Linked DNA regions of Homo sapiens: region 2 is linked to region 1. Evidence: fine-mapped expression QTL. Tissue or cell type: skeletal muscle. Region 1 holds a variant in brackets; the other region holds the start of a gene. All regions are shown on one strand. Distances are from middle to middle.

The links. PIP is the estimated chance that this variant, and not a neighbour inherited with it, causes the effect.
Region 2: it holds the start of FNTB, and the variant in region 1 is fine-mapped to the expression of FNTB in skeletal muscle (GTEx, PIP 0.97).

Annotation. Positions count from the first base shown.
Region 1 is chr14:65,019,742-65,022,589 of GRCh38, forward strand. The region is part of intron 6 of CHURC1-FNTB (CHURC1-FNTB readthrough); the gene reads left to right. All of the region lies in intron 4 of FNTB (farnesyltransferase, CAAX box, subunit beta), which reads left to right. It also overlaps a transcript of MAX not described here. Among named protein-coding and RNA genes, the nearest start is that of MIR4706, 24 kb to the right of the region's middle. RefSeq lists a silencer at 280-329. The variant T/C (reference allele first, on the strand shown) is at 1,235.
Region 2 is chr14:64,985,944-64,988,617 of GRCh38, forward strand. It overlaps FNTB (farnesyltransferase, CAAX box, subunit beta), which reads left to right and starts at 952. Exons shown (of 12, transcript NM_002028.4): 1 at 952-1,154. The coding sequence starts at 1,011. All of the region lies in intron 3 of CHURC1-FNTB (CHURC1-FNTB readthrough), which reads left to right. LOC107984655 (a long non-coding RNA gene) reads right to left here and starts at 1,170. Exons shown (of 2, transcript XR_001750792.2): 1 at 737-1,170; 2 at 1-656.

The DNA.
Region 1 (2,848 bases):
GCTTTGTGCCTAGGAGGTGGTTACTTCTAGGTGCAGAAAACACTTGTTATGAACAAAGCCTACTGGCTCTGACCCATAAGGAAATAGATTATTTTTAGTAAGATACAGATAAATCTTAAGGACTTCTATATAAATAGAAGATTTTTTTTAGACTAGCTGAAATAGAATATTGCCTTTTTATTTATCTTGCACAGGGAAATGAAATGCTTTGAAATGCGTTCAGTTTTCTTTCTTCATACAAATATATTAAGGTGACCTAGAGTCAAAAAGTCTAGCTCTGCAGTTTTATTATTTTCCTGCCTTCTTTTCCCCTGCATGTAACACACACGCCCCCTACACTTACACAAAGGTTTCTCTTTCCTATTTTGTTCACTGCTGTGCTTCTATTTGTTTAGGGAACAATATGATAAGCTGGGTTCCCTCTAGTGGACAAAATACTTTTGTCAGCTGCTATGACCGCTGACCAAAGCCAGCAAGGCGAGGTTGTTACTGCTGGTATCAGAGGTTTCAAGAATAATGTATTCATAGCCTGGAATGTTTTCTTTATTTTTGGTAGAGACAGTGCCTTGCTGTGTTGCCTGGGCTGGTCTCAATCTCCTGGGCTCAATTGATCCTCCTGCCTTAGCCTCCCAAAACACTGGGATTATAGGCGTGAGCCACCATGCCCAGTCCATAGGTAGGACTTCAGCTTGCCTCTTTTTTTTTTGAGAGTCTCGCTCTGTTGCCCAGACTGGAGTGCAGTGGCACGATCTTGGCTCACTGCAACCTCCACCTCCTGGGTTCAAGCAATTCTCCTGCCTCGGCCTCCCGAGTAGCTGGGACTACAGGCATACAGGCGGGAGCCACCACACCCGGCTAATTTTTGTATTTTTAGTAGAGATTGGGTTTTACCATGTTGGCCAAGTTGGTCTCGAACTCCTGACCTCAGGTGATCCACCTGCCTCAGCCTCCCAAAGTGCTGGGATTACAGGCATGAGCCACCGCGCCCGGCCTTTTTTTTTTTTTTTTGAGACGGAGTTTTGCTCTTGTTGCCAGGCTGTAGTGCAGTGGCATGATCTCAGCTCACTGCAACCTCCACCTCCCGGGTTCAAGTGATTCTCCTGCCTCAGCTTCCCAAGTAGCTAGGATTACAGGGGTGTGCCACCACGCCCAGCTAATTTTTGTATTTTGTAAAGACAGGCTTTCAACATGTTGGCCAGGCTGGTCTTGAACTCCTGACCTCAGGTGATACACC[T/C]GTCTTGGCTTCCCAAAGTGTTGGGATTACAGATGTGAGCCACCGCACCCGGCCTAGCTTCCCTCTTTTAAGAGGTTATATGCACACATTTATATGTGTTTATCTAAAATGAATTAATATTTTGGAACTAGACTAAGTACATTTGCTTTGCTTAATGGTTTTGGCACTGAAGGAAGCATCCTCTAATGAGAATCCCATTCTTTGTTACTGAAAGCAGCTTCAGTGAAACAGAGCAAAATAAAATTCACAGGGAGACCATCGCACTGTTAAAGTTATGTTTTTAGCTTCTGTAAGATTTAAAAATTGCCTTTAACTTAAAAACCATTTTAGGACATTTCAGCTTGTAAGATTTTTCCAAAGATAAATTCAAATTTTGCTATTTCAGTGTTTTATCCTTTCCCTTTCAAAAGGTTGTTAGTAGCTTATCCCCGGAATAGCCCCTTAAATATTTTTCCTTTTAATTTTTAAGTCTAGTTTGTATGTTTCCTTACCTTTCAGTGAGGACACCATATCTAGGCCTTTGTCTCCTGGGCATTTTTCCTGGCCAGGTGCTGTTGGCACCTGGTGGGTGCAGGTCAGAGGTGCTGCTAAATATCCTCTACAGGACGGTCCCTGCACCAAAGAATTACTGAGCCCCAGTGTCAACAGTTGAGAAACTCTGCTCTAAAGTAGCCAACTTTTTTTTCCTTTGAGGCAGTCTTGCTGTGTCCCCCAGGCTGGAGGGCACTGGTGCAATCTCAGCTCACTGCAACTTCCACCTTCCGGGTTCAAGCGATTCTCGTGCTTCAGCCTCCCAAGCAGCTGGGACTACGGGCGCATGCCACTATGCCTGGCTAATTTTTGTATTTTTAGTAGAGATGGGGTTTCACCATGTTGGCCAGGCTGGTCTCAAACTCCTGGCCTTAAGTGATCCGCCCACGTCGGCCTCCCAAAGTGCTAGGATTATAGGCGTGAGCCACTGCGCCCGGCCTATAGTAGCCAACTTTCGACCTGACCATTCTTCCAGAACAGCAGCCATCCAGAGACTTGCCGGTGCTTGATGAAGAGTCAAATAACACGTCTGACTCTGTGAGCAGCAGAGGCCACCCGGAATCAACAAGAGATGCTGCCCGTCTTCACCTGTCCATTGTCATATTCTACCTAGGGAAGGAGATTTCCTCTTCACTATATCAAGCTGAAGCTGTTTTAGTTAGTACGAGAACAAGCTTGATGTGATGCCAGCTCATGCATCTTGCATTTACATCCCCTCCTAAGCCGTTCTGCCCATGGATGACTGTTCCTATTTCCAAAGCTGTAATCTTTTTTTCTGTTTTTTTTTTTTTAAACCTGCCCAATTGTGCAGAACATAGCTATAATTTTTATAACTTATCCTAGGCCTTAAGTCTGTCTATGATAGCCTAGTCTAGTGCTGAAGTTTTTTATGTAACCTAAATACTTCTTGCTACAAATTAGTCTCAGTTTTTACCTACTAGAATGTTTATGTAATTATCCTTTGTATATTTGAGGTATTTTGCTGGGTAGCTTTCTCACTGTGATTGTCTGTAATATTAAGCTTTTTATATTATTTTAAAAATAGAGATAAGGTCTCGCTGTATTGCCTAAGCTGGTCTCAAA
Region 2 (2,674 bases), 34 kb before region 1:
TGCCCAGCACATGTCTTCTAAAAGCTGCTGTTTCTTCCTTTTTCAGGAGTTCTTTCCCATACTGTTCTTCTGGATGACTCCTCGTCATCCTTCGGATCTCAAATGAAAGGTCATTTAGAGAGGCTTGGCCTGACCATACAATTCAATTAGTTTCTTACCCCTTTAGTCTCTCTCATAGACCCTGTTATTTTCCTTCATCTCATTTATCACAAGTCTTCATATATTTATTGCGTTGGATACATTCAATTCTGTCGATTTTCTTAGAATGTAAGGTTTCCAAGGGAAGGGACTTCGTTTTGTTCACTTTTGTATTCCTAGAACCTAGCACAATGCCTGACACATAGCAGGTGTTCCATAAATATCTGCGGACTGACTGTCTATTTCACTTATCCTTGTTCCTTGTACTGCATTTCAGTTCTCGCTACTGCAGTGTAACCTCCAAGAGACAGGAGAAAATCATAATACCCCCCTCCCTCCATCACTGAGTGATACTGAGACGGCGTCCTTGCACGTTTGAGCAGCTGCTGCCTTCTCCTGGGAGGCTGTCAAGTACCCCAAGGTGCACAATAATTCTTTTAGTAATTGCCTGACTGAGGCAAATCAGTAGAGCTGTCAGAAATGCTTTCAAACTTAACATTCATTGGGTTCTTGGGCACCTGAAATTGCAAACAATTGCATTACAATTAAGTGAGAATTAGCAGAATGTTACAGTTCTTTAACAATTTGCGTAACAAACCGAGGCGTCCTACGCCATCTCGCTGAAATGAAATTCGGATGTAGACACCCTTGCGCTTCAGGACTCTACGCTCTTGCAGCAGCTCCTCTGCCCAATGGGGGGCGGCAGCATCTCAGTAACTCACTCGAAAGACGGGTAGGCGGGAGGAGACATTCGCGTTCAAAATCTTTTTGCCTCTATCCGCTCGCCGTAGCGCTTTAGCCCGCTCGAGTTTCAATGCGCGTTGTTGCTTAACGAAGCAGAGTCCTACACACTGTCTGCTGCTCTCCTGATCATGGCTTCTCCGAGTTCTTTCACCTACTATTGCCCTCCATCTTCCTCCCCCGTCTGGTCAGAGCCGCTGTACAGTCTGAGGCCCGAGCACGCGCGAGAGCGGTTGCAGGACGACTCGGTGGAAACAGTCACGTCCATAGAACAGGTGAGGTGGCAGGACTGGGCGAGGCGCCCGCGCGATGTGTTCTGGGAGCGCGAGTCCCGTTCGTAGGGCCGCCCGGGTGCGGAACTCACCGGGGAACTACGACTCCCACAGCGCACCGCGGTGCCTTTCCTCTGGGAAGCTCCGGGCGCCCAGGCTTGGGCTTCGTCGTGGAGCGTTTGCGCGGCCAGCTTGGGGAAGGGTCGTTTCAAGGTTGGGCTTGGAGGAGAGGGCAGTAGCCGAGTCCCCTCTGCCCTAAAGAACGAGAAGAATCGTGTTCTATGCCTGGAGGACAGAGGCAGCCCGTGCGGGTCGGACAGCCCACTCTGTTCTGCCAGTACTTCGGGAGGTTCTGGGGTGCATAGTGCACTTTTCCCAACCTGCCCTCAGCTTCTGGAGGCAGAGAGCAGGGCCAGGCTGCTGTCATGCCGTTTCACGATCTGTTTAATTTTTGACCTACAGTGCCAGGTTTGGGGGCCCGCCTCGTGGGTGGGCATTTTGGTAGTCATTCAGCCATTTGAGCACCAGCTACGTGTCGGACACAATATTAAACGATGGAAGTACAAGGAAATAAAACAGCTCCTGACCAGGAGCCTGGTTGGGGGACAGGCAGGAAAACAGTTTGGAAAGTGATCTAATAGAAAGAATGGATTTTGGACTACTAATCATTCCCTAAGGCCTAGAAGTAGGATCGAACCTATCATTTTGAAAAGTGTTTGGCGAATGAGTATATATTCATATGCCCAAAACCATAGTTTTGTTTTTCTTCTTATTCCCTAATTGGAATTGTTCCCAAGGTTGCTATGTGGAACTGTTTATCCATCTGTCCCTAGGAGAAGTGGTTAGGATAATTCTTAACACTAATAAATGAACATTCTGCTGCTTACTGAAATAAGATCTCTTAGTGAGATCAGTCTCCAGGCTTTACCTTGGAGAGACCTGTTTTGTATTTCCTACTTTAAGTTGGAAGCCTGTACTTTGGCAAAATTAGTAACAATAATTGTTTTATTGTACAGTTATGACTAAATAGAATTATAAATTTATAACAGAAACAAGGGCTTGATACGTGGTTATTCACAAAGTAGCAGAGAAAATATTTTAACTGGAGATTTAAACTTCATGGAATTTAGGGTAGCAAAGGAAATCCTCACCTCTCGAATCTAGCTAATTCTCCAGGTTGGTTTGCCTACCAGTGTGTCCCAGGGAAGGCTGACTGCAAAAGATTGTAAAGAAATTTCCCATTGATGAAAAACCTACAGGATCTTTGCAGAATTCCTAAATGATGGATTGCTGAGTTGATTCAGGTCAAGTGTTTTACTTATTATCTGACCTTAGACTATGGGATTGCCTTTTTTTTTTTTTTTTTTTTTGAGATGGGGTCTCGCCCTGTTGCCAGGCTGGGATGCACTGGCTTACTGCACCCTCCGCCTCCCGGGTTCACGCCATTCGCCTGCCTCAGCCTCCAGAGTAGCTGAGACTACAGGCGCCCACCACCACGCCTGGCTAATTTTTGTATTTTAGTA